Regions from separate parts of the Homo sapiens genome. Here all the other regions are linked to region 5. The links come from fine-mapping of genetic effects on gene expression. A gene starts in region 5. Each other region holds a variant in brackets. All regions are shown on one strand. Distances are between the middles of the regions.

What was found. PIP is the estimated chance that this variant, and not a neighbour inherited with it, causes the effect.
Region 1: its variant is fine-mapped to the expression of SLC71A2 in subcutaneous fat (GTEx, PIP 0.96).
Region 2: its variant is fine-mapped to the expression of SLC71A2 in monocytes after LPS (Quach 2016, PIP 0.95). The same link has a PIP of 0.9 or more in monocytes after Pam3CSK4.
Region 3: its variant is fine-mapped to the expression of SLC71A2 in whole blood (GTEx, PIP above 0.99).
Region 4: its variant is fine-mapped to the expression of SLC71A2 in macrophages (Nedelec 2016, PIP 0.91).
Region 6: its variant is fine-mapped to the expression of SLC71A2 in whole blood (INTERVAL, PIP above 0.99). The same link has a PIP of 0.9 or more in monocytes.
Region 7: its variant is fine-mapped to the expression of SLC71A2 in whole blood (TOPMed, PIP above 0.99). The same link has a PIP of 0.9 or more in blood mononuclear cells and monocytes.

The regions. Positions count from the first base shown.
Region 1 is chr9:94,297,543-94,301,608 of GRCh38, reverse strand. ZNF169 (zinc finger protein 169) reads right to left here. Exons shown (of 5, transcript NM_194320.4): 5 at 1-1,794. The coding sequence ends at 239. Among named protein-coding and RNA genes, the nearest start is that of NUTM2F, 29 kb to the left of the region's middle. The variant G/T (reference allele first, on the strand shown) is at 2,437.
Region 2 is chr9:94,423,003-94,427,068 of GRCh38, reverse strand. All of the region lies in intron 2 of SLC71A2 (solute carrier family 71 member 2), which reads right to left. Among named protein-coding and RNA genes, the nearest start is that of SLC71A2, 50 kb to the right of the region's middle. The variant A/T (reference allele first, on the strand shown) is at 2,151.
Region 3 is chr9:94,485,241-94,489,306 of GRCh38, reverse strand. LOC107987100 (a long non-coding RNA gene) reads left to right here. Exons shown (of 3, transcript XR_001746844.2): 2 at 1,487-1,655; 3 at 3,429-3,865. Among named protein-coding and RNA genes, the nearest start is that of PCAT7, 68 kb to the left of the region's middle. RefSeq lists an enhancer at 1,060-1,229. The variant A/G (reference allele first, on the strand shown) is at 2,359.
Region 4 is chr9:94,497,270-94,501,335 of GRCh38, reverse strand. The region is part of intron 1 of LOC107987100 (a long non-coding RNA gene); the gene reads left to right. It also overlaps the pseudogene LOC100421692. Among named protein-coding and RNA genes, the nearest start is that of PCAT7, 56 kb to the left of the region's middle. The variant C/T (reference allele first, on the strand shown) is at 2,046.
Region 5 is chr9:94,372,293-94,376,358 of GRCh38, reverse strand. It overlaps SLC71A2 (solute carrier family 71 member 2), which reads right to left and starts at 1,790. Exons shown (of 12, transcript NM_032558.3): 1 at 1,432-1,790. The coding sequence starts at 1,539. RefSeq lists enhancers at 1,021-1,520, 1,521-2,022 and a silencer at 1,572-1,971.
Region 6 is chr9:94,398,304-94,402,369 of GRCh38, reverse strand. All of the region lies in intron 1 of SLC71A2 (solute carrier family 71 member 2), which reads right to left. Among named protein-coding and RNA genes, the nearest start is that of SLC71A2, 26 kb to the right of the region's middle. The variant C/TC (reference allele first, on the strand shown) is at 1,861.
Region 7 is chr9:94,352,524-94,356,589 of GRCh38, reverse strand. The region is part of intron 2 of LOC100132077 (a long non-coding RNA gene); the gene reads right to left. Among named protein-coding and RNA genes, the nearest start is that of SLC71A2, 20 kb to the left of the region's middle. The variant C/T (reference allele first, on the strand shown) is at 2,168.

The sequences.
Region 1 (4,066 bases), 75 kb after region 5:
TCCAGCCTCCATAAATATGAAAATATATTTCCGTTGTCAAAATCACCCAGCCTGGGGTACTTTGTTATGGAACCCCTAGCAAGCCAAGACAAATTGTGAATATAGAAAGTAAACCAAAAATCAACTATCTCATGATCGATGAAAGAAAGCAACATTTTTTTTTTTCCATTCCATTTCAGGAAACTGAAGCATTTACTAGTGATTTCTGCCAGCTTCACACTCACGGGGAAAGGAAAGGTCAGAAGACCTCTTGGGGTAGGAGCTGATGACCAGACTTGGTCCTCCTGTGTCTATGCAAGTGAGACTTCTGGCTAAAGCCACGCCCACACTCCCTGCAGACATACGGCTTCTCCCCAGAATGGGTCCGCTGATGTCGGATGAGGGCAGACTTAAAGCCAAAGCCGCGCCCACATTCATCGCAAATGCAGGGCTTCTCTCCTGAGTGTGTCCTTTGGTCAGAGATAAGGTGTGACTTCTGGCCAAGTCCTTGTCCACACACCCTGTCTACGTAAAGCTCCTCCTCTGAGTGTGTCCTCTGGTGTCGGGTGAGGAGCGACTTAAAGCCAAATGCACGCCCACACTTGGGGCACAGATAAGGCTTCTCCCCTGTGTGTGTCCTCTGGTGTCTGATGAGGGTGACCTTCTGACCAAAGCCACGCCCACAATCAGGGCACAGGTAGGGCTTCTCCCCTGTGTGTGTCCTCTGGTGTCCAATGAGGGTGACCTTCTGGCTAAAACCCCGCCCACACTGGGGGCACAGGTAAGGCTTCTCCCCTGTGTGTGTCCTCTGGTGCCTGATGAGAGTGACCTTTTGGCGAAAGCTGTGCCCACACTCAGCACAGACATAAGGCTTCTCTCCTGAGTGTGTGACCTGGTGACTAAGGAGGAGTGACTGCTGCCTGAAGCTACGCCCACACTCAAGGCACAGGAAGGGCCTCTCCCCTGTGTGTGAGCTCTGGTGCTGGAGGAGTGATGCCTTCTGGCAAAAGCCTCTCCCACACTCAGGACACACGAAGGGCTTCTCCTCCAAGTGCGTCCTCTGGTGTAGAAGGAGGGCTATCTTCTGGCGAAAGCCTCGCCCACACTCCTGACATACAAAGGGCCTCTCCCCGGAGTGAATCCTCTTGTGATTAGTGAGAGAGGATGTATACCTGAAGTGTCGCCCACATTCCCTGCACACATACGGCTTCTCCCCCGAGTGCTTCCTCTGGTGTATGGAGAGGGAGGCCTTCTGGCTAAACCGACGCCCACACTCAGGACACAGGTATGGCTTCTCCCCGGTGTGTGTCCTCTGGTGCTTGATAAGGTCTGATCTCTGGCAAAAGCCTCTCCCGCATTCAGGGCACACATGATGCTTCTGGTGGCTGAACAGGCTTGACTTTTTGCTAAGTCCCAGTCTATAGTTTCCACGTATGACTGCTCCAGATTCTGAAGTGTCTGCTCCCTTCAACATTGTGTCTGACCCCCCAAGACTCATCCTTTGGGCCAGGCGAAGGTCTGTTCCTCCTTCTCTGTTCCCTTCTACCCATTCTACTGGGTCACCTTGATGTGGGCTGAAGAATGTCCTAGAAATTCTGCTTGGCCTCTTTCTTAATGAGCTGTCGGGGCCTTCTGTCTCTCCACTTTCTCCTTTTTCACTAGAGCATCTTGGAGCTTCTAGTTGGAAGTCACCTCCTGCAGATGAGCTTGGGAAGATCTGTGTGGGATGGCCACTTAGCGCATATTGTCTGAGGAGCTGCGAGCTAGAAAAGGCCACCAGGTGGGGAAAACTTGGCTGGAATTCTGTTCTAGGCTCTGCTAGAGAGAAAGTCTTGGTCAGAATCACCACAGGTGACCATGGATTGTAATACCTGCCCAGCAGTTTTCTTCAGATGTTCACAACAAAGACTTATCTTCCAACCCACAAGGGCACATTACATGCTCTATTGCAGCACAGAAAACCCACACTACAAACTAGTCCTATCAGCCAAACTAAAAGGTTCAAAAAAGCATCACAGGCAGCTTCAGCTCTATAAATTGCTGCAAGTAGAGTTACACATTTATCTTCCTTTCTTGGGCGCCGCTCCCTTGCTTTTGCTCCAGCTCAAGCCTATTAAACCTTGCCTGAGAAACATTTGTTCGGCCTGCTGTTTATGCAAGAGCCAAGAACTTGGTGTCTGAGCTGCAGTTAAGAAACAGACTGATTATGATCTTGAAGGTGCTATAAATAAGATCTTAGCATCTGAAGGGGAGCCATGCTTTGGGCTTCCTTGACTGTGGTGACTCAAGTAAGGGGCACCCACGAATCAGATAAGCTGTAGCAAGAGATACTGGCTCCTGTGTGGAATAGGCTTTAGGCCAGGGAGCTTCCATATCAGCCTGATGTGAGTTGTCTCCTGAACTGTATGGACACCCTTAAGTCCTCTTGAAGAAGAGGAATCCCTGATGCTGCCCTCC[G/T]GGCAAATGAAGGTGCTGTCCTCTAGCCTCTGGGAAGACTGCAGCCAAGTATATTCCCCGAATAGCATTGCACAACACTACGTACACTGTTTTGCTCAATAATCCAGGATTTTTAAAAAAATCTGGTGAATTAAGGAGAAGCTCAGCGTTTGAAAGTTAATAATAGATGACTTCTCATTAGCATAAAGATGTTTCAGGGATTATACATATTTCGGCTTAAGCATATTCTTATCCATGCACAAAAACTGTTAAAACTATACAAATTGACTTTTTCAAAAAATTTTGTTTCTAGGTTTAAATAGGCTGCCAATTGGAGATAACACTAATTCCCATGATGGTATAAATTAAAGGCTCTGGAAATTGGCAGTGCTTTCAGCTTCCGTAAGTTGATACCGTAACTCCTAGGTAATTATTGACTAAGTTCTTTTTTTTTTTTTTTTTTTTGAGACAGAGTCTCGCTCTGTTGCCCAGGCTGGAGTGCAGTGGCGTGATCTTGGCTGACTGCAACCTCTGGTTCAAGCAATTCTCCTGTCTCAGCCTCCTGAGCAGCTGGGATTACAGGCGTGCACCACCATGCCCGGCTAAGTTTTGTATTTTTAGTAGAGATCGGGTTTCACCATGTTGGCCAGGCTGGTCTTGAACTCCTGACCTTAGGTGAGAGACGGGGTTTCACCATGTTGGCCAGGCTGGTCTCGAACTCCTGACCTTAGGTGATCCGCCTGCCTCGGCCTCCCAAAGTGCTGGGGTTATAGGCATGAGCCACTGCGCTCGGCAGGACTAAGTTCTTATGAGTCATTATGGGACAGCCCTCAATAGAGAAGTCTGCTTTCATTATCTCTGAAATTGTTTGCTGTAGTGAATAAGCAAAGCATTTGGTAAGAGAAAAATAAGGCATTTTCTTATTCATGGCTAGTTTATCTTTTTTATCTTACTTTTGTTTAAAGACTCCTGCTTTTTAACTCAGATTAGAAATTGAGTCTCCTTGAACAAATTTTTTTTTTTTTTTTTAAAGGAGTCTCGCACTGTCGCCTAGGCTGGAGTACAGTGGCACTATCTCAGCCCACTGCAACCTCCACCTCCTGGGTTCAAGCAATTCTCCCACCTCAGCCTCCTGAGTAGCTGGGATTACAGGCGCACCTACTACGCCTGGCTAATTTTTTGTATTTTTAGTAGTGACAGGGTCTCACCATGTTGGCCAGGCTGGTCTCAAACTCCTGACCTCAAGTGATTCGCCTGCCTTGGCCTCCCAAAGTGCTGGGATTACAGGCGTGAGCCACCGCGCCCAGCCCCTGGAACAAATTTTTAAGAGCATTGATCAGAAATGTACCTGGCAAGTAGCAACCCATAGCAAGAAACTGAATCAGGGTTTCAAGTGCCCTATCAGAACAGAAGTGAACAATTTAATGGAATTAAACTACTTAACAGAAGACCCTTGGTTCAAGGCAGACGATTATAAATACAATACTGATTTATATGTTATTCTATTTGTTAACTATTTTTAATCACAAAATACGTATTTCTTATTTTTGACCATACTATTCCTAAGAAAAACTCTTTGTATCATTGATTAGAGTCAGTAAGATCATATCTGCAAGAGGGAACTTCAGCAGCTTTAGGGATTGCCATTCAC
Region 2 (4,066 bases), 51 kb before region 5:
TTAAATATCTCAGAGAAGATCAAAGCTTTCATTTTTAACATCTCTGTATGAAAAAAAATCTCAAGCTTAGCCAGGCACAGTGGCATACACCTGTAATCCTAGCTACTGAGGAAGCTGAAGTGGGAAGATTGCCTTGAGCCCGGAAGATCAAGTCTGCAGTGAGCTATGATTGCACCACTGCACTCTAGCCTGGGCAACAGAGCAAGACCTTGTATCTATCTATCTATCTAAATAAATAAATAAAAATAACTCAAGGAAAATATCCCCTTTAAGTATTCTTGAGAAGGACTACAGTAAACATAAAATAAAATGGCATTTGCCTGAAAAAAATAGGAAACATTTTAAAAGAAAAAAATGACACTTGCTTATCACTTTTAAAACAATAACTATAAAGTTTTAAGAAATGAACTGTCTTCCAGTACAACAAAGCTTAGAAATATCTACATGTAATAAACATACACAGAGCTGTGTTTCTCCACTTCCACAGATATAACAGAAAAAACATGAAATTAAATTTACAGCATTCCTAGAAAGCCAAGAATCATAAGGCGCTTCTGGATGATACAGAACAGATGAGAAAAGACTGACAACAAAAAAAGAGCTGAAGAAAAGTAGCACTTGAAGATGAAAGAGAAGACCTTGAAGAAGTTCATTTTCCAGAACCCAGAAAGAAACCTCCCAAATCAGAGGAGTAGGAAAAAATAGCCATAAATGAAAGGGTACTAAAAGGTCACAAAGTAAGCTCCCTGGTGTCTTCCTCTCAAAGCTGCTGACCTACAGATATGGCACCAGGATAACAATCACAAGCACAGTTCTCTGAAAACTGTGGGACTTCTAAGTGGGATACTTGCAGGATTGAACGGAATGAGATTCAAAAAGGACGGTGCCCCAGATCTCTTATGGCTGCCAAAAGTGCACAAAGTCCTATGACCACATAATCCTATAGAGTACTTCAGTACTCTAGAATATCCACACTTTCACAGAGCAAGAGGGCCTATAACCAGTCCCTGCATTAAATTTTAGGGAATAAGGCTTTCCACCTGGGCTGAAGAACTACACTCTTAGTAACCACAGGTATCTAGACTACAGGTGGAAAACTGGCTACAGCCTGACTGTAAACTTGAAACAGCCTTTGCAAAATTATGACTGAGACAGTGAAAGATCTAACTTAACCGACTCCATCTTACTTCTAACCTCCAAGCTGTCCTTGTTCATTCCTGGGCATAGCATGAACTTTGGGAGAAACTTAGTTTATAGTTTTTTAAAACAAAGACAGTAATAGCCCTTTCCCAAAGCAGACCTCCTTCTTGCCTGGAGACTAGACTGCCTTTGTAGGACCAACATTAGCCACAAGATTAGAAATTATGGTTTACGAATCAGGTAGCTAGAGGCTACAGGATTCTGACCCTCCCCAAACTGCTCCTAATATCACTGCTTGAGATATTTTGCAGACCCTGCACTTAATGGATCAGCTGGCACCACCCAGATCGATAAACTGGCTCATCTGATCTTGTGGCCCCAACTCAGGAACTGACTCAACTCAAGAAGACAGCTTCAACGCCCCATGATTTCATCCATGACCAATTCTGTAGTGTGGCTCATTTTCCTCAAGACTGCCTTAGTCTAAGCCTTTTTTATGTCTCCATATATTTTATAATCAGCTCTTCAATAGCCACAAAATAACTTGCGAAGAATTTTGATTATGATTGCATTGACCACAGAATAATTGGGAAAGAACAGACATACTGTCTTTTTGTTGTTGTTTGATTCAAAGTCTCACTCTGTCACCCAGGCTCAGGTGCAGTGGCACGATCTCGGCTCACCACAACCTCCACCTCCCGGGTTCAAGCGATTCTCCTGCCTCAACCTCCCGAGTAGCTGGGATTACAGGAGTGCGTCACCATGCCTGGTTAATTTAGTAGATATGGGGTTTCGCCGAGGTTGATCTTGAACAAGATAGGGAAACAGATGTCATTACACAAATACCACAGTAAAAACTGTTGCAGACAAGCATTTATGGATGCTAAAATTAGTAGGACAACAGAAAAGGAACAAGATATCTGGACAGTCTCAAAGTATTTCTCCACAACATACTCACTTGAGACCAGGAGTTCAAGACCAGCCTCGCTGAAACCCGATATTTATTATTT[A/T]AAAAAAAAAAAAAAGCCAGTTGTGGTGGCACACGCCTGTAGTCCCAGCTACTCAGGAGGTCGGGGCAGGAGAATCACTTGAACCCAGGAGGCAGAGGTTGCAGTGAGCTGAGATCTAGCCACTGCACCCCAGCCTGGGCAACAGAGTGAGACTCTCAATCAAAGAATAAAAAAAAAAAAAAAAAAAAAAAGCAGAAAACAATATGTCCATTCTTCCACAATCAATCTATAGTCAATGCAATCATAATAAAAATTCTTAGCAGATTATTTTGTGGGTATTGAAGAGCTGATTATAAAATATATATATACAGACATAAAAAAGGCTTAGACCAAGGCAATCTTGAGGAAAATGAACCACACTAAGGAATTTATACAAGATATTATGGCTGGGCGCAGTGGCTCACACCTGCAATCCCAGCACTTTGGGAAACTGAGGCAGGCAGATAACCTGAGGTCAGGAGTTCGAGACCAGCCTGGCCAACATGGTGAAACCCAGTATCTACTAAAAATACAAAAATTAGCCAGGCATGGTGGTGCATGCCTGTTATTCCAGCTACTCAGGAGGCTAAAGCAGGAGAATCACTTGAACCCAGAAGGCGGAGGTTGCAGTGAGCCGAGATCGCACCACTGCACTCCAGCCTGGGTGATAGAGTGAGACTCCATTGCTCCCCCCTCCGCCAAAAAAAAACATATTACTATAGAAGTTAACACAGGATGGTGTTGGCACAAGGAAATATAGCTCAACAGAATACTAAAAAATTTAGAAACAAACCCATATATGGACGGTTGTCTCATTTATGACAAAGGTGACACAGTACAGTGGGGAAAGAAGAATTTTTTCAATAAATGATGCTGGTTCAACTATATATTCTTCTGCAACCAAAGTGAATACTGACCCCCTACCAAACACAATGATCTTTCTGGATGATAGGACTACATGAGAACAATAAACCAATTAAGGTTTGTGGTAGAAAAAGTTGTCTTAAACAGGATTTTTTAAAAACACTAACCATAAGCAAAAATAAATTCAACTACATAAAAACTTAAATTCAATTAAAATTAGTGTCATCCAAAGGCATTAAGAGAACAGAAAGGCCCTGACATTGAAGAATTCAGGTGAAGATGCCACCATTCTTGAACTCTGAAAGCCAAACTAGAATCTTCAGAGCAGCCTCAGTCTTAAAATTCAAGCTTCTTTTTCCTACTTTTTATTTCAGTGATATTTAGGACACTCTATATTTCATAAGAGTTATGATCTAACTGGCTCTATAAGCCCAAGTATAAAAATCCTTACCACCTAGCAAGAGACCCACAGAACTAGTCAGTAGTAAGACTGAGGTCACATATTGGAAAAAATATACTAGACCAGGGTTATACACAGGGACCATCCAGCAATAAAGATGTTGCTGGCAAGTAACCATAGTGGTGGGTGACCACTAGCGAAAAGGGCTGAAGAGACCTCAGAAGGTTATCCGGGTTATCTGGGTAGACCTATGTCTTTTTCCATGCCCGAGGGTCACGACGTCACTATGCAGGGCACACGTGGCTTGGTTTAAAGGTCACCTTAATCGTAGCAAATGTAATAAATATTTTTTAGATCCTGAAATTTATAATAAAAATACTTTCCTGCCTACCCTGAAAAAAAAAAAAAAAGAGAGAGAGAGAACAGAAAGGCAATCCCAGGCTGGGCATTCTGGCTCACATCTGTAATCCCAGCACTTTGGGAAGTCAAGGCAGGCAGATCACTTGAGGTCAGGAGTTCAAGATCAGCCTGCCCAACATGGTGAAACCCCATCTCTACTAAAAATACAAAAATTAGCCAGGCTTGGTGGCACGCGCCTGTATTCCAAACTACTTGGGAGGCTGAGGCAGGGGAACTGCTTGAACCCGGGAGGCAGACATTGCAGTGAACCGAT
Region 3 (4,066 bases), 110 kb before region 5:
GTTTCAATATTTGGTGTTAGTCCCAGGTTTCTAACACAAGAGCCTCTAAGACCTTTGGGATCTCCACCATAGTACGAATGCATTTGGTGATGTTACTGGATGACTGGGTGACTGAAAGCTCCTAGACAGCTTCAGGAGGAGGGCTGGTTGCCAGAGGCTTGGAACTGTGAGTCTCACCCACTGAGCTCCAGAAGAAATGGTGGCCGAAGATTGACTTAATCACCAATGGTCAATGATTTCAACAATCATGCCTGCATAACGAAGCCTTCATCAACACCCTCAACAACAGGGTTTGGAGAATGCCTGGGTTGTTGAACACAAGGGGCATATGAGGAGGGTAACATGCACAACAGAGAGCATGGAAGTTCTGTGCCCTTCCCCCCACATACCTTGCTCTGTGCATTTTTTTTTTTTTTTTTTTTTTTTTTTTTTTTGAGACAGGGTCTGGCTCTGTCTCCCAGGCTAGAGTGCTGTGGCACAATCGTGGCTCACTGCCACCTATGCCTCCCTAGCTCAAGCCATCCTCTCAGCCTTCTGAGTAGCTAGAACTACACGCACATGTCACTGCACCTGGCTAACGTTTAGAAAAATTTTTTTGCAGAGATGGGATTTCACCACGTTACCCAGGCTGGTCTTAATCTCCTGAGCTTAAGTGATGCTCCCGCCTCAGTCTCCCAAACTGCTGAGATTACAGGCATGAGCCACTGTGCCCAACATGTACATCTCTTTCACTGGCTGTTTCTAACATATATCCTTTACAGTGAACCAGTAATAGAACGTAAATTGGTGAGACACAGTGGCTCATGCCCATAATCCTAGCACTTTGGGAGGTTGAGGTGGGAGAATTATGTGAGCCCAGAAATTTGAGACCAGCCTGGGCAACATAACAAGACCCCATCTCTACAAAAAATAAAAGAACATAGCCAGATGTGGTGGAGCAGGCCTGTAGTCTCAGCTATTTGGGAGGGTGAGGCGGGAGGATCACTTAAGCCCAGGAGCTCGAGGCTACAGTGAGCTTTGATCACACCACTGCATTGCAGCCTGGCAACAGAGTGAGACCCTGTATCTGAGAATAAAAGAAAATAACTTGTTTTTTGAGTTCCGCAAGCTGTCCTAGCAAATGATTCCACCCACGAAGGGGGTTATGAGACCCTGTTTCCTAACTGGTTTGTCAAAAGTACATGTTAACAACCCAGGACTTGCAATTGGCATGTGGAGTGAGGGTAGACTCCTGGGACTGAGCCCCCATCCTGCGGGGTCTGCACTAACTCCGGGGAGTGTCAGGATGGAATTGTGGGATACCCAGTTGGTATCCAGATTGTCCGAAAATCGGTGTAGAAACTCCACATGCACATTTGGTTAGAGGTGTTTGACCATAACTACTATTCAAGAAAAAGATCTACTCATTAGAAATAAAAATCATAAAATTATACATTCTACAAAAACAAATCAACCTTATCTACCTCCCAATCCTACCAAACTACAGAATGTTAGAACAGAAGGTCTGACCATGGACTCAAGAGCTGACGTTAGGAATGTCAGCACCATCCTGCTCTCCAAGGACTCCTCATCTTCAACAGACTCCTCATCTTCAAAGGAAAGGGTGGAAACTGCAACTTGTGCCATGATCCCTGCGTGAGAAAAGTAGTAAGAAAGTGAGTGATAGAAATCCAGTGTCCTAAATTCACATCCAGAACTGTGAGAGTTTTTCACTAGCTGGCTAATTCACAGGTTTCTTGCATCAGAGGAAAAATACGACTCAGAAACTAGGAATTCCATTTGCCCAAAACTCTCATCAGATTAGAGAATCCATCCGCTAACTTTCTTATCTAGTATTATTTCCATGAGTTAGATCAATATCATTCCCAAAATAAATGCACATGGCACCCAGAATCTGTGCATTTCTCCCAAGTAAAAGAGGAGGCGGCCAGGAACGGTGGCTCATGCCTATAATCCCAGCACTTCAGAAGGCCAAAGTGGGCGGATCACCTGAGGTCAGGAGTTCAAGACCAGCCTGGCCAACATGGCGATACCCCATCTCTACTAAAAATAAAAAATTAGCCAGGTGTGGTGGCACATGCCTGTAGCCCCAGCTACTTGGGAGGCTGAGGCAGGAGAATCGCTTGAACCCGGGGGGGCTGAGGTTGCAGTGAGCTGAGATCGCACCACTACACTCCAGCCTGGGCAACAGAGTGAGACTCGGTCTCAAAAAAACAAAAACAAAAAAGAGGAGACAAGGCGCTGTACAACCCAGTGCCCAGTGATGGGCTACCACAAGTCAACACAGGAAAGAGGTGCCAAGCTCCCTTTCTCCCCTGCACAACCCGACACAAAAAAGAGTTGGTGCAGTGGAATGAG[A/G]CTGGATGGAGAGAAGTTCTTCTTTTTTGTTTTTTTGAGACCAAATCTCACTCTGTCACACAGGCTGGGGTGCAGTGTCTTTGTCTTGGCTCACTGCGACCTCTGCCTCCCGGGTTCAACCAGTTCCCTGCCTCAGGCTTCCAAGTAGCTGGGATTAGAGGTGCCTGCCACTGCACCCGGCTAATTTTTTTTTATTATTATTTTTAGTAGAGACTGGGTTTCACTATGTTGGACAGGCTGGTCTTGAACTCCTGACCTTGTGATCCACCTGCCTCGGCCTCCCAAAATGCTGTGATTACAAGCATGAGCCGCCGCGCCCAGCCAGGAAGTTCCTCTTCTTACTGAGAAAATAGATCACAGGGCATCAAGTAACATGTAAAAGTCTTTATAATAAGGAATATGATTTTTGGAAAAACTTTCCTAATATTTTGGTATTAGCAAAAACCCTCAGATTAATTTCAAACAGTATAAAAATACAGTATATAAACAAAATATTAACTGTCAGTAATGCTATAGAGAAATTGGAGGCTTTTTGGAATGTAAAATGGTACAGCCCACTGTGGGAAATGGTTTGGCAGCTCCTTAAAAATACTAAGCATAGAATTATTTGATCCACCAACACCCTTTAAGCGTATATACCCAAAAGAACTGAGAGCAGGGACTCAAACAGGTATTTGTACACCCGTTTAACAGCAGCATTATTCACAGTGGCCAACAGGTAGAACCAACCCTAATGCCCATCAGGGTTGATAAAGAATGGATGAATGGATGATGGATGAATGGTGAATGAAGAAAATGTAATATATACATATACAGAGTATTATTCAGCCATACAAAGAAAAATATTTGGCCAGGTTCAATGGCTTACACCTGTAATCCCAGCACTTTTCGAGGCTAAGGCGGGCAGGTCGCTGGAGCCCAGAATTTTGAGACCAGGCTGGATAACATGGCACATTTGGTTAGAAGTGTTTGATCATAACTACTATTCAAGAAAAAGATATACTCATTAGAAATAAAAATCATAAAATTATATGTTCTACAAAAACAAATCAATTTTATCTACCGCCCAGTCCTACCCGACCATAGAATGTTAGAACAGAAGGTCTCACCGTGGACTCAAGAGCTGACATGAAGAATGTCACCACCATCCTGCTCTCCAAGGACTCCTCATCTTCAATGGACTCCTCATCTTCAACGGACTCCTCATCTACAACGGGCAGGGTGGAAACTGCAACTTGTGCCATGATCCCTGCGCAAGAAAAGTAGTAAGAAATTGAGTGGTAGAAATCCAGTGTCCTAAACTCACATCCAGAGCTGTGAGAGTTTTTCACAGGCTGGCTAATTCAGAGTTTTCTTGCATCAGAGGAAAAGTAAGACTCGGAAACTTGGTATTCGATTTGCCCAAAACTCTCATTAGATAGAGAATCCATCCGCTAACTTTCTATCTAGTATTATTTCCATAAAGTTAGATCAATATCACTCCCAAAATAAATCCACGTGGCAACCAGAATCAGTGCATTTCTCCCAAGTACAAGAGGAGGTGGCCGAGCGTGGTGGTTCACGCCTGTAATCCCAGCACTTTTGGAGGCCGAGGAGGGTGCATCAGGAGGTCAGGAGATGGAGCCCATCCAGGCCAATATGGTGAAACCCCGGTGTCTACTAAAAATACAAAAAATAGCTGGGTGTGGTGGCGTGTGTCCCAGCTACT
Region 4 (4,066 bases), 120 kb before region 5:
CTCTCAAAATTCTCTCCTATCAAAGCAACGAGAAAGCTACCCAAATTGGTGAAATCAACTTTTTAAACTTTGGAAATTAATCAAAGATTTACAGCAATGCAGAAAGCATTTATTCATGAAAAATGGATGAATCTCAGCAGAAACAGGAACTTTGTGGTGCTTTTCCATGCCCTCTCTCCAGCTTTCAGGCAGCCTTGCAAACCGACAGCCCACAATCATGGTGAAAACCAGTAGCCTGACAGCCACTGTAGCAGGCAGAACAGGGTTAATTGGAAAACTGAATTTAAAAACATGATCTAACTATGCATCTACAAGAGACATAGTTTAGACTAAAGAACACAAATAGGTGGAAAGTAAAAGGATAAAAAGATATACTATGTAGGCCAGGTGCAGTGGCTCACACCTGTAATCCCAGCACTTTGGCAGGCAGAGGTGGGCAGATCACCTGAGGTCAGGAGAATGAGACCAGTCTGGCCAACATGGTGAAACCTCGTCTCTACTAAAAATACAAAAATTAGCCAGGCGTGGTGGCACATGCCTGTAATTCCAGCTACTTGGGAAGCTGAGGCAGGAGAATCACCTTAACCTGGGAAGTGGAGGTTGCAGTGAGCTGAGACTGCACCACTACACTCCAGCCTAGGCAACAGAGACTCCATCTCAAAAAATAATAATAAAATAAAAATAAAAATAAAAAATTAGACGAGCATAGTGGCACACTTTTGTAGTCCCAGCTACTCAGGAGGCTGAGGTAGGAGGATTACCTGAGCCTGGGAAGCTCAACACTGCAGTGAGCCATGATTATGCCACTGCACTGTAACCTGGGCAACAGAGTGAGATCCTGTCCCCCCCAAAAAAAGTGTAAATCCAGCATAAAGATATAACAATTATAAACATATATGCACCCTACAAAAGAATCCCAAAATACATAAATCAAAAAAGTTTCAAATGGATCGAACCTACAAATGTTGAGAAGCCGAATAATAATTTATTAGAATAAATGTAAGAGAATATTTTTATAATCTTTTGAGGCCTTAAGCAACAAAGAAAAAAACATCTGGGTACAGTGGCACATGACCATAGTCCCAGCTGCTTGAAAGACTGAGGCAGGAAGCTTGCCTGAGCCCAGGAGTTCAAGACCAGCCTGGGCAATATAGTGAGACTCCATCTCAAAAAAAAAAAAAAAAAAAAAAAAGATAGATGAATTTAGTGATAAAAAACTTAAGAATTTTTCTATACGTGGCAAAAGCATGATAAATGAAGTAAAACGATAAACAACTAGGAGAAATATTTATAATAAACATGAAAAGGGGTATTATCTCTAACTTATAAAGAACTCCTACAATGTGATTAGAAAGGGAAAATTAACCTAAAAGACAGGACAAGGAAAATAAATAGGCAGTGTACAAAGAGAAAATGCAAATGGCTAAAACCTCACTATAGTCCTGGAAATACAACAATGAGATACCATCTTTCATCCATCAAATTGGGCTTAAAAAATAAAAAAGATCTATAATATCCAATACTGATAAACTGGTAACGAGCATTCATACACGCCTGGTAGGAATCTGCTTTGCTATACCTTTTTTTAAAAAAAATGTAGTATGGCAGTTTCTATTAAAATTTATAGTGTAAACAGATTTTAAATCAGCAATCCCAGTTTGGGAAATCTATCCTGCATAAATAAAAGCACTACTACAAAAGTAACATATTTATCTATTACAGAAAATTATGATGGATATCAATTTTTATTTTTCCCTGTAACCTAAATCATTTTTTTCTGGCTTATTCCCTAGACTGCTTCTGCCATTTTCCCTATAAATCTCTCATTCTCAGCAAAAGAACAGAAAACATAAAGAGAGTTTTCTTCTCCAATATTGTTTTATAAAAATCTCAAACATACAAAACATTAAAAGAATTGTTTAATAAACACTCTTACAATCAGTAACCAGCTCACCTAGATTCTGTAATTAACATTTTGTTATATTTGTTATCACGTATCTGTTCATCTACCCATGCCTTAAAGAGGTTGTTTTTAATTCCTTTAT[C/T]TGTTTCCATGGCAAGGCAATGTTTAAACATAAATAGTGAACAAAGCCAGCCGGAAAATAAAGTTTTTACCTTATTAATCACTCCAGTCTCTCTTTACCATTCATACTTCAGATTGTTTCCCCAAATACACAGCTTAAAGCCAAATCCAATTCTTTTATCTGTAACAACTGAATTTATTACTCTATTTAATCTTCACTTTTACTGAAAGGTTTCTCTTTTTTTTCTCTTGAGACAGTCTTGCTCTGTCACCCAGGCTAAACTGCAGGTGCGTGATCACAGCTCACTGCATTCTCAACCTCCTGAGCTCAACTGATCCTTTGACCTCAGCACCCTGAATAGCTGGGACTACAGGCACATGCAACCATGCTCGGCTAATTTTTCTATTTTTTTTTTTTTGTAGAAATAGGGTTTTGCCACATTGCTGGGCTGGTCTTGAACTCACGGGCTCAAGCCATCAGCCCACCTCAGCCTCTCAAAGTGCTAGGATTACAGGCACGAGCCATTGTGCCTGGCCAGAAGGTTTGATGCTTTTGAGGAATATGCTCAATGCAAGAAAGCACTGCAAATTATCAGCTTAAGAATGGTTCTTGTGTATGGGTATCTCTCTCCTCCTTACTTACATCGTTATGTAAATATTGCCTATCTCACAAGTTATGTTTTCATAAAATGGCCTCTTATACCCTATTTTGTTTTATTATCTACAATTTCGATGGGTTTGCCATAAAGACGTTATTATTTATGGCATCTAATATGCTATGATTCTCAGATTCTAGTCTTGGCACCCTTCTAATAGAGGAGAACAAGAACAGAAATGAAAAATACCTATAATTGGCCAGGCGCGGTGGCTCATGCCTGTAATCCCAGCACTTTGGGAGGCCGAGGCGGGCGGATCACGAGGTCAGAAGATCGAGACCATCCTGGCTAACACGGTGAAACCCTGTCTACTAAAAATACAAAAAATAAGCCAGGCATGGTGGTGGGCACCTGTGGTCCCAGCTACTCGGGAGGCTGAGGCAGGGGAATGGCGTGAACTTGGGAGGCGGAGCTTGCAGTGAGCCAAGATCACGCCACTGCACTCCATCCAGCCTGGGCAACAGAGCGAGACTCCGTCTCAAAAAAAAAAAAAAAAAAAAAAAAACCTAAAATTAAAAAGTGGGAGGCCATCTGCAAATCTTGAAGTGAGAGGATTTCCATCTTCATCATGGCAAAATGCAAACAGCCCAGCAGAGAAACCCTGTAAGAAAAAGTTCAAAATGTCTTAATGTGAAAAATATCAACGCTGATTACAGGCCTGTGATCAAAAGAGAGCACTGATACCAACTGGGACATAAAAGCACCACGCCAATGCTTCTATAGGAACTTCTCACACATTGGAATCGAACAATTAAGTGTTCCATATTTATAAATTTTAAATTCTAATTACTTGAGGTAAATATTTCTAATGAGAAATTTTCTAAAATACAGTATTTTCAATTTATATACAGTATAAATACTATAAACATCTATTACTGTGCTATAATTATATTTCCAGGCACCATTAAGAGTTTTAAAACCATGAAGCGCACCAGCTGTTGTGTTTTTAATTCCTGTCTTCTGTGTGTGTGTGTGTGTGTGTGTGTGTGTGTGTTTGTGTACTTTATGAAATGGTTCTGAAAGTCTGTCTGCGTTTTAAAGTTATTTTGGCCTTCTTATATATATAGCAGAATCCTCCCAAAGTGCTGGGATTACAGGGGAGAGCCACCACTCCCGGCCTTTCTTCCTTTTTTGAGAATGTTTCAGGTATCACTTCTGAACAAGAGCTGTAAAGATAAAAGCAGCACACTGAGATGCATGGCCAAGACTGACATTTGCTTACAATAGATAAACTTAATTCAAAATGTCTGTGAAGACAAGCATTTGTATGTGCTCAAATATACATGTAAAAAATTATTTAGCTGATCATTTCCTTTCCTTTAATTTGAGAAAGTGGTAAGTCATCACTACTTTCTCCCTATAAGGATTTTCACATGGTTATCAGAAG
Region 5 (4,066 bases):
TGAGCATAAGAATGCATAGGAGAGGATAAAAACCTAAAATCTGTATCTAATAAACTTAGCTAGACTTTCTGATTGTTTTAAGTATGGGAAGGGATGAAGGAAGCTACCTCGCAGGTTACTAGCTGGGCCACTGGTTAGTAATTACTGTCCATCAATTCATGAGACAGGAGGAGGAACTGGTGCTTTAGTTTTGTGTAGCAAGCAGGAAGAGGACAAGTCTACTTAACGCGAATCAAAATGAGAGCAAGCAATTATACAGAATTTCTCTCCCTCGACAAAATAAGCTTCTCATATTACAGAGATCTTAACTTTGAAATGCTTTTCAAAATAGGGAGTCACTTGGGCTGGGAGGGGACTTCAACTAAGTCCTCATTTTACAGAGGAGGCACTGAGGGGCAAGGCTGTTTCAATACCCTGTCCAGAGTGCGCACTGTTCAGGCAAAACCAGGACTAAAAACCAGCTCTGCCGGATCCGTTCTACCTACTGCTCCTTCTGCTTCAGCTGCCCTCCCAACCTACTAATAGGGATTTACATCCCCAAATACGTTCATGTAAACACTTAGCATTCTTCAACTAAACACAAAATCAGATATGTAAGCTAAAAATCTAAAGCCAAAAACATGTATTTAATTTCCATAAAATTTCTACTTTTCTTTGGAAAAACTTTCCCATTGTGTCAGTTTCTATTCACTGTAACATTCTCTATATTTCAGGTCCTAAGACCAAAAAAAAAAAATCCTTTTTAAACTTAGGCCTTGAAGAAACGACAAACCCTCTAGGCTTAATATTGCACCATATGAAACCACTGACACAGACAAGGCCTGTTCTGCCGAAACCAGGCCAGTTAAGTCAGGGCTCAATTGCTTCTGTATCATTGTCAGAAGCCATCTCGACCTCAAGCAAAAGTAAAACTGGAGAAAGAGGCCAGCCTAACTTGCTCCTCGGCTGGTCCCCAGCAACGCCCCTGGAAACTCTGCTCCCCATCGCTAGGACCGCCCCTCCGACGCCGGGAGAACACGGAAGGAGCAGCAAGGCGCTGCCCGGCATCTGCCGCCAACTTCCCCGTCGACGGTCTGATTCAAATGCTCCCTACCTGTTTTCCATGTAGACTTGGAGAGAAACTGCGCCAGGAAAACTGTTATCAACTGTTACAGGGACGGAGAACTCCGAAATAACCAAATTACTACTTATATTCACTGTCCCATGTCTAGCGCCTTTTGAAACAATAACCAAATCCTGTAAAGTTTTGTCTGCGATGAGCAGTCACTAGGAAAAACCTGTATTCGTGATGAATTCGCCTCCCCCCCCAGAAAAGGACCGACTTTCCAAGAGCCGAAGCCCCTGCCCGGAGCGGCGGGCTCGCGGGCCCTGGGTGCGACCCCACCCAGCCTCCCCGGGATTCAGGCAGCCGGGCCCCGCGCCCGCGCTCACCCAGGTGCTCCCCGCGGCCTGCGCGCCCGCGCGCTTCTCCGGCATGGCTCCCGCCTCGGGCTCCGACGCCGCCTTCTCCTCCAGCTCCGGCGGCGGCTCCACGCTCATGCCGCGGCCATGCCCGCGCCAGCCCGGGGCGCTCCGGGACGACGGCGACGCCGCGGAGGCGGCGGCGGTGCCCGCGCCCTCATGGGCTCTGCGGCCCGCGGCGGCCTGCGGGTCAGGCGGCGGCGCCAGCGGCGGCGCCGAGGGCTGAGGAGGCGGCGGAGGCTGAAGCTGCGGATCAGGCTAGCAGAAGACCGCAGCTCCAGGAACCGACCACTTATCAAACCGCACCGACCCCGACTCTCGCAGTTACCGGCGGCGTCAGGGGCGGGCTGCACGGTTAAGAGACTGTGCCCCGCCCCGCCTCCCCACAGGCCGGCGCCGGGCAGGAGGCCCCGCCCCGCACCTCAGCTCCCGCCTCGAGAACGAGTCCCGCGCCTGAGTAGCCTCCAGCGACGCCACGCCCACTTCAGAGACCCCTCCTTTACCTCGCGACTGGCCCCTTGGCATCAGGACTTCGCGGCGCGCGGGAAGTACGTCATTTCGAGAGCCCGTACGACTGATTTCTTTTTCCGGAGAATCTGGACTGAGGCTAGCAAGCGGGGAGGGGCAAACTCGTGGGGGTTTGGTAGTGATTGCAGTTCAGTTTTGGTCTTGGTTTGCGCCAACCCGCCAACCTCTCAAGTTTTTCTATGGTTCTCTAAGAAGAAAATAATATACTAGCAATGTTTCCCAAACGTACTTGAACACAACACTTTTTATTCTTGACACATGATTAATATCTTGTAGAATGTGTAGGACGCAGTTGGAAAAGCCTGGCTTATGTTTATTTATTTTGAAAGATATGCACCTAATACTGAAATATAAAAAAGCCTACAGGCCTGGAGCGGTGGCCCACACCTATAATCCCAGCACTTTGGGAGGCCGAGGCGGCTGGTTCACCTGAGGTCAGGAGTTAGAGACCAGCCTGGCCAACGCGGTGAAACCCTGTCTCTACTAAAAAACAAAAACAAAAACAAAAAACACCAAAAAAATTAGCCGGGCTTGGTGGCGCACGCCTGTAATCCAAGCTACTCGGGAGGCTGAGGCAGGAGAATAGCTTGAACCTGGGAGCCGGAGGTTGCAGTGAGCCGAGATAGCGTCACTGCACTCCATCCTGGGCGACAGAGTGAGGCTCTGTCTCACAAAAAAAAAAAAAAAATCTTTTTACAAACATCAATAGAAAAAAGAATAAAATTATTTCTATTAACAGGATTAGTAATTTTAATTGAATTAAAGTCATTTCATTTAAGAATTTTTTCAGGTTGGGCGTGGTGGCTCACGCCTGTAATCCCAGGACTTTGGCAGGCAGAGGTGGGCGGATCGCCTGAGGTCAAGAGTTCCAGACCAGCCTGGCCAACATGGTGAAACCCCGTCTCTACTAAAAATACAGAAGTTAGCCGGGCATGGTGGCGGATGCCTGTAATCCCAGCTACTTGGGAGGCTGAGGGAAGAGAATCGCTTGAACCCAGGAGGCGGAGGTTGCAGTGAGCCGAGATGGTGCACTGCACTCCACCCTGGGTGACAAGAGTGAGACTTCGTCTCCAAAAAAAAAAAAAAAAAAAGCCTCTTTTTCGCTTCCCACCCACTACCCCCAAACACACACACACACACTTTGCAGAAGTCTTTACTTTTATTTATTTATTTATTTATTTGAGACAGAGTCTTGCTCTGTCACCCAGGCTACAGTCACCCAGCCTAGATCAGTGGCGTGATCTAGGTTCACTGCAACCTCTACCTCCCGCATTCAAGCGACTCTCCTGCCTGAGCCTGCCGAGTAGCTGGGATTACAGGTGCGCGTCACCATGCCCGGCTAATTTTTGTATTTTTAGTAGAGACGGGGTTTCACCATGTTGGCTGGGCTGGTCTTGAACTACTGACTTCAAGTGATCCGCCCCCCTCGGCTCACCGAGCCGGCCTGGTCTTTTTTCTTTTTTTTTTTTTTTTTTTGAGACGAAATTTCGCTTTTGTCGCCCAGCCTAGATCAGTGGCTCGATCTCGGCTCACTGCAACCTGTGCCTCCTGGGTTCAAGCAATTCTCCTGCCTCAGACTCTCGAGTAGCTGGGATTACAGGTGCATGCCACGACCTGGCTATCTTCTGTATGTTTAGTAGAGACAAGTTCACCATGTTGGCCAGGCTGTTCTCGAATTCCTGATCTCAGGTGATCCACCCGCCTCGACCTCCCATAGTGCTGGGATTACAGGCGTGAGCGACTACACCCAGCCTGATTTGTCTACTTTTCTGAATGATTGTTTTAACAAATAGTTTTCAAAACACAGAGGGAATATATGTATTATGTTATGCTGTTTGAGTATTATGTTTATGCCACTTATGAGCTTGGGTATCAGTTTCTGATTCCTGTATCCATGAAACAGAAAAGTTTGTAAACTGTTTTTTTGTTTTCTTTTGAGACAGTCTTGCTCTGTTGCCCAGTCTGGAGTACAGTGGCGCGATCTCAGCTCACTGCAACCTCTGCCTCTCCGGTTCAAACGATTGTGGTGCCTCAGCCTCCCGAGTAGCTGGGACTACAGGCACCTGCCACCACACCC
Region 6 (4,066 bases), 26 kb before region 5:
ATGGTACGTGAATGTATCTCAATTTTTAAAATGCAATAGAGAGAAAAGAGAGCAGAGATTCTTTTTCTGTCTCTGGAATACTTTAACTGTATGTGAAGCCTAGAACTGTCAGAGGCGTGTGAACCAGAGCGACTCCATCTTGAATAGGAGCTGGGTAAATGAGACTGAAACCTACTGGGCTGTATTCCCAGACAGTTAAGGAATTCTAACTCAAAGGATGAAGATAGGGAGCACAAGATACAGGTCATAAAGACCTTGCTGATAAAGCAGGTTACAGTAAAGAAGCTGGCTAAAACCCACCAAAAACAAGACAGAAATGAGAGTGATCTCTGGTCATCGTCACTGCTATACTCCCACCAGTGCCATGACAGTTTACAAATGTCATGGCAACGTCAGGAAGTTACCCTATAGGTCTAAAAGGGGGAGGCATGAATAATCCACCCCTTGTTTAGCATATAATCAAGAAACAGCCATAAAAATGGGCACCAGCAGCCCTCAGGGCTGCTCTGTCTATGGAGTAGCCATTCTTTTGTTCCTCTACTTTCCTAATAAACTTGCTTTCACTTTAGGGACTTGCCCTGAATTCTTTCTTGTTCGAGGTCTATCCAGGAATCCTCTCTTGGAGTCTGGATTGGGACCCCTTTCCTGTAACTGAACTATGGCAGCCATCTTGAGACCATGAGAGCCAGACAAATCAACACACTGAAGATGGAAAGAACCTGGTCCTTGACGCAAAATCAAGGACCAATCCTGGAACTGTCTTTCCATCAGATTTCTTGTTAAATGAGGTAATAAATCCCGATCGTCAACAAGAAAAAGGGGGAGGGGTGACAGGACCGCAACAGTCTCCTCAAAGATGATATACAGATGGCAAATATGCCTATAAAAAGATGTTCATTGCTGGGCGCAGTGGCTCACGCCTGTAATCCCAGGACTTTGGGAGGCCCAGGTCTTGATCACCTGAGGTCAGGAGTTCAAGACCAGCCTGGCCAACACGGTGAAACCCCATCTCTACTAAAAATACAAAAAAATTTGCTGGTTGTGGTGGCGGACGCCTGTAATCCCAGCTACTTGGGAGGCTGAGGCAGGAGAAAATGCTTGAAATCGGAAGGCGGAGGTTGCAGTGAGCCAAGATCGCGCCACTGCACTCCAGCCTGGGTGACAGAGTGAGACTCCGTTTCAAAAACAACAACAAAAAAATTAGCCTGTGTTTGAGGGTCCTCTTTTCTATTGCAGTTGACCCCACATGAAAGAGCGAAACTCCGTCTCAAAAAAAAAAAAGGAAAAGAAAAGATGTTCATTATGTGTCACTGTCATTTTAAAATGCAAATTAAAACAACAAGATTGTTAGAAGGATGGATCTGAAATGCATATTGCTAAATGAAAGAAGCAAGTCTGAAAGGCTACAAAGTGTAAGATACCATTTAAAGGGCATTCCGGAAAAAGCAAAACTATAGATAGTACCAGATCAGTGGTAGCTGGAGTTGGAGGGTAGGGTTAAATGGATGAAGCACAGGACACTTTCAGGTAGTAAAATTGTTCTGTATGATATTTTAATGATAGGTAAACGGCACCACGCATTTTTCAAAACCAGCAGAACTTCAGAGAACAAGAGTGAGCCTCAGTACATGTTAACTTTTAGAAAACATTTCAGAGGTGGAGAATCCCAGGATGGAACGCAGAATGTAGCAAAAGAATCTAATTGCAGTACAAACACAGGAAACAACCTCACTAAAGGGGGTATGGGGAAAGGCAGTGATCCAAGTAACTCTGGGAAATAGTGGAGTCTTTTTTTTTTTTTCATTTGGAAGCTGGAATTTTATCATAGGCAACAAATATTATCAGTTGTTTTTTTTTTTT[C/TC]CTTTAAGACTGGAGGCAAAAAAAGTTGCGCATAAATGAAACTGGCTCAATTTCCCCATAGAAATTATATGTACAGGTCTTTGAATAAACATAGAAACTGACCCTTCCAGTTTTAAAACCTAAAACTTATATTTGTCTCCAATGAGTTCTTTCCTCAGGCAACGGACTGAAACTCACCAAATCACCATTTGACAATGAGACCCCAGACACCTCTTTCCCCTCATAGGTCAGGACTGCTTCCTTATCCTTTTCCTAATTGCTGTTTTCCTCACACATAGTTACATTCCTTTTTTCGGTACATAAACTCCCCAGTTTTAGTTGGTCGAGGAGGCAGATTCGAAACTGATCTCCCATTCTCTTCAGTAGGCAACACCTAAATAAAAAGGCAAAATTTTTCTCTGGCCGGGCGCAGTGGCTCTGGGTGTAATCCCAGAACTTTGGGAGGCCTAGACGGGCGGATCACTTGAGATCATGAGTTTGAGACCAGCCTGGCCAACATGGGGAAACCTCCCATCTCTACTAAAAATACAAAATTAGCCAGGCCACCGTGGTGGCACACGCCTGTAATCCCAGCTACTCGGGAGGCTGAGGCAGGAGAATCGCATGAACCCAGGAGGCAGAGGTTGTAGTGAGCCGAGATCGCACCATTGCACTCCAGCCTGGGCAACAAAAGCGAAACTCCATCTCAAAAAAAAAAAAAAAGGCTTTTTCCCCGGCAATACTCACCTCAGTGATTGGCTTTCTGTGTGGCGAGAAACAAGACCTAGATCGACCACCTGGCATTTCTGTAACTTAAACACTGTTATGCTATAGTTGAAAGTTGTACCCCATGGAAATAAAGATTAACAATTCTGGAACCATGTATGCTGTGACTGACCAATTAAATAAACTGGATGGCAGATGGTGGAAGCCAGGTTTCTCACTGCTGGAGTGGAAGGTTACAAATAAACAAGAGAAGGAAGCAAGAATGATCCATGTAATCATGGATTAGAGTTGAGCACATCATTATGAACTCATTTTTAACTTCATATAGATACAGATGGTCACAAATGGAAATACTTACAAATGTGTGTATTATATACACCTGTTTCCTCACACTCTATCAGCTGAAAGAGCCTGAAAGAAACTACACCCTAGAAACTCAACGGCAATAAGCATATCTAGTGTGACACATCTTGGTTTCAAATGCCATTCTCAAATAAAAGAAACCAGGGCTCCTTGGAGAAACAGCTAATTCTGGGACTAGAGTGGGAAATATGTAAGAGGAGCGTGGAGTATCTTGTAATCCCAGAATATAAGCATGGCAAGCCAGGTCTCACTAACTCAGGCCCCCAAAACAACTGTTTCTGTACAGACTGAGTAGTTAAGTTAAATGTTAAAAGCTGAAAGAGCCGGCCGGGCACGATGGCTCACATCTGTAATCCTAGCCACTCTGGGAGGCCAAGGTGGGCGGATCACCTGAAGTCAGGAGTTCGAAACCAGCCTGGCCAAAATGGTGAAACCCCATCTCTACTAAAAATACAAAAATATTAGCTGGGTGTGGTGGCAGGTGCCTGTAATCCCAGCTACTTTGGAGGCTGAGGCAGGAAAATCGCTTGAACGCAGGAGGCGGAGGTTGCAGTGAGCCAAGACTGCCCCACTGCACTCCAGCCTCAGTGACAGAGCAGAGCAAGACTCCATCTCGGAGGGCGCGACGGGGGGGAGGGGAAGAGCCAGTACCCTTATGCAAAGGCTGGAATTTAACAAAAGCCCACCAAGAGTTTTGCCTAGGCCTTTCCTGGGCCTTAAAGCATGACAAAATAATGAAGGAATTCTTAAGGCCCATTTAGGATTAAACAAGTTTTACTGTGGGTCTAAAGAAACTTCCCAGGCCTCCACAAACAAGTTTATTGGGGTGTGAAGGAACTCCCAAACCTCCGTGATTTAGCAGGAGACAAGATAAGGGTAATCACTCCAGCACCTGGACCCATTTAGATTAAGTAAATGTACTGAGGCTCCAGAGGAAGGTCTTCAAGACTCAGACCTTAGTTATGGACCAAAAGTTGTTAATCATTAAGATGAATGCACACTTACAGGTAGACATATAACTTAGAAGGTATATAAGCTACGGAAACTTTGTAATATTGAGTTGGCCTGGTGATAATTTCCAGGTATTCTCCCTGTAACCCATTGCAGAAATAAAAACTTTCTTCCTCCCCAGTTCATC
Region 7 (4,066 bases), 20 kb after region 5:
GGTGGTGTGCGCCTGTAATCCCAGCTACTCAGGAGGCTGAGGCAGGAGAACTGCTTGAACCAGGGAGGCAGAGGTTGCAGTGAGCCAAGATCAGGCCACAGCACTCCAGCCTGGGCAACAGAGCAAGACTCCGTCTCGGGGTGGAAAAAAAAAAGAAATGGCTATGTTATAGTTTTGACAGTAAATAATTTGTAAGTCATTACTCTCATATGGTGAAAACATCTACTCTCCTATAATTGAAAAAAAACTTTTTTTTTTTTTTTTGAGACAGAGACTCTCTCTGTTGCCCAAGCTGGAGTGCAGTGGTGCAATCTTGGCTCACTACAGCCTCTGCCTCCCAGATTCAAGCAATTCTCCTGCCTCAGCCTCCCGAGTAACTGGGATTACAGATGTGCACCACCACGCCTGGCTAATTTTTGTATTTTTAGTAGAGACGAGGTTTCATTATGTTGGCCAGGCTGGTCTCAAACTCCTGACCTAAGGAGATCCTCCCACCTCGGCCTCCCAAAGCGCTGGGATTACAGACGTGAGCCACTGCGCCCAGCCTGAAAAAAAAACTTTAAGGAAGGTTTTTTAAGGTTCCTAGGGCTGGTTATTGCTGGAAATCATAAACAAAGTGACCATTTAAGTATAAGAATCATCTGTATATCTAGCCTAGCCAACGTGGTGAAACATCGTCTCTACTAAAAATACAAAAATTAGCTGGGCGTGGGGCATGGTGGCACACACCTGTAATCCTAGCTACTTGGGAGGCTGAGGCAGGAGAATGGCTTGAACCCGGGAGGTGGAGGTTGCAGTGACCAAGATCGCGCCATTGCACCCCAGCCTGGGCAAACTCTGTCTCAAAAAAAAAAAAAAAAAAAAAGAAACATCTGAATTTGACTTTTAAAATTATGACTATATATCATAATTCAATCAATAAATATGTTAAATGATTTTTTTCTATGAAGGATAAAGTAATATTTTCCCTAAAACCAATCATAAGAAGAAAAGTACTTCCTTTAGTGCAAAGTTATAACATAGGCCAGTGGTTCTCAAAGTGTGGCATAGGGAACCCTGGAGAATCCCCAAATCTTTTTTTAGAAGAACGGTCTATGAGGTCAAAAGTATTCTCAAAACAATACTGGGGCCGAGCGCAGTGGCTCACACCTGTAATCCCAGTACTTTGGGAGGCCGAGGCAGGCGGATCACTGGAGGTCAGGATCCCTGACCAACTTGGTGAAGCCCTGTCTCTACTAAAAATACAAAAATTAGCCAGGTGTGGTGGCAAACACCTATAATCCCAGCTATTTGGGAGGCTGAGGCAGGAGAATTGCTTGAACCTGGGAGGTGGAAGTTGCAGTGAGCTGAGATCACGTGAGTGCGCTCCAGCCTGGGCAAGAGTGAATCTCCATCTCAAAAAAAAAAAAAAAAAAAGATACTGGGAATGACTTGTCTAATTTACTTTCATTGTCTCATGAGTGTAGACAATGAGTAGAGCTTTGCTGAGCCTGTAAGATACATAGAATTACATATATACAATTGAATCCTGTGTCTTCTGTTAAGGCAGAAAAAATTCTTTGCAAAATTGTAAAACAATGTCATTCTTCTCACTATAACTTTTTTCTTTTGGAAATTCTTTTGTGAAGTTATTTTTTGCATAACTGTTATTTATGTTAACATTTTTATTGTATTCATGTAAACATTATTTTATATATTTTAATTTTAAGTTAGCCTACAGTAAAATTGACTTTTCTTGTGTACAGTTCTATCAGTTTATTATTATTATTATTATTATTTTGAAACAGGGTCTCACTGTCACCCAGGCTGAAGTACACTGGCATGATCACAGCTCACTGCAGCCTCCCCCTCCTGGGTTCCAGCGATCCTCCCACCTCAGGCTCCGAAGTAGCTGCGATTACAAGCATGCACCATCACACCGGGCTAATTTTTCTATTTTTTGTAGAGATGGGGTTTTGCCATGTTGCCCACGCTGGTCTTAAACTCCTTGGCTCAAGTGATCCTCCAGCCTCGGCCTCCCAAAGTCCTGGGATTACAGGCATAAGCCACCATGACTGGCCAGTTCCTGAAGTTTTAAAAAACACAGATTCATATAGCCACTGCTTCAATGCAGATACAAAAGAGCTCTATCACCCTAAGAAACTCCCTCGTGCTGCTCCCTTAAGGC[C/T]ACATTCTCCCACTAACTCCTGGCAACCACCGATTTGTTGCCTAACATTTATAGTTGCATCTTTTTGAGGTTGTCATAAATGAAATAATACAATATGTAAACCTTTTGAGACAGGCTTCTTTCACTCAGAATGTTACCTTTGAGATCAATCAAGTTGCTGGGTCCCTTTTTTTGCCGGGTAGTCTTCCATTCACTGTATGGATGTACCAAAGATTACTTACTCATTTACCAGTGGGAGAAGTTTTCAGTGTTTCCAGTTTGGGGGTATTACAAACAAAGCTTTATGAAACACCGCTATACAAGTTTTCATGTGACCATAACTTTTCTTTTTTTTAATTTTATGGTTTTTTTTTGTTTGTTTTTTTTTTTTTGAGACAGAGTCTAGCTCTGTCGCCCAGGCTGGAGTGCAGTGGCGCAATCTCGGCTCACTGCAAGCTCTGCCTCCTGGGTTCATACCATTCTCCTGCCTCAGCCTCCCGAGTAGCTGGGACTACAGGCGCCCACCACCACACCCGGCTAATTTTTTGTATTTTTAGTAGGGAGGGGGTTTCACCGTGTTCGCCAGGATGGTCTCGATCTCCTGACCTTGTGATCCACCTGCCTCGGCCTCCCAAAGTGCTGGGATTACAGGCATGAGCCTCCGCACCCGGCCGTAACTTTTCATTTGCTAAGGTAAATACCTAGGAGTGGGACTGGTGGGTCATATAGTAAGTATATGTTTAACTTTATAAAAGGCTGCCAAGTGTTCTTCCAGAGTGACTGCATCATTCTCCATTCCCACCAGAAATGTGTGCAAGTTCTAGTTACTCCACATTCTCCACATCACTTGGTCAGGTCAGTTTTTCTATTTTAGCTGATGGTGTGGTGTCTCACTATGGTTTTTTTGGTTTGTTTTTTGGGAGGCAAGGTCTCACTCTGTCACCCAGGCAGGGGTGCAGTGGTGCTATCATAGCTCACTACAACTTCAATCTCCAGGGCTCAAGTAATCCTCTCACTTCAGCCTCCCAAGTAGCTGGGACTACAGCGGTATGCCACCTATTTTTTATTTTTAGTAGAGACATGCCCAGCTATTTTTGATTTTTAGTAGAGACAGGGTCTCACTATGTTGGCCAGGCTGGTCTGGAACTCCTGAGCTCAAGCAATCCTCCTGCCTCAGCTTCCCAAAATGCTGGCATTACAGGCATGAGCCACTGTCCCCAGCCTCACTATGGTTTTAATTTGCACTTCCTGATAGCTAATGATGTTGAAAATATTTTCTTGTGCTTATTTTCCATCGATATAACTTCTTTGATGAAGTATCTGCTCAAGTCTTTTACCCATTTTTTACTTAAACTCTATTTTCCTTCTGTTGAGTTTTGAGAGGTCTTTATATACTCTGAATACTAGTCTTTGTCAGATAAGTGATTTCTCAACATTTTCTCCAAGTCTGTGGTGTGTATTTTTATTCTCTTCACAGTGTATTTTGCAGAGCATGGGTTTTAAATTTTATGAATCCAATTTGTCATGTTTTTTAGTGGATCAGGCATTTGACATCATATCTAAGAACTTTTTGTCTAACTTCAGTTCATGAAAATTTTCTTCTGTTTTCTTTTTTAAATATTATGCTTTGAATTTTAACATTTACGTGTAAAATCAATTTTTAGTTAGTCTGTGTATAAGGTGAAATTTAGGTCAAGGTTCATTTTTTTGCAGGATGACTAATTATCCCAACACTGGTTTTGGAAAGACTGTCCTTTCTCCTTTGAATTACTTTTGCACCTCTGTCAAAAATCAATTGGTCATCACCTCATACCCATCAGAATGACTACTGTAAAACAAAACAAAAAACAGAAAATAATGAGTGCTGGTGTCAGAGGCATTTGAGCCAGAGCAACTCCATCTTGAATAGGAGCTGGGTAA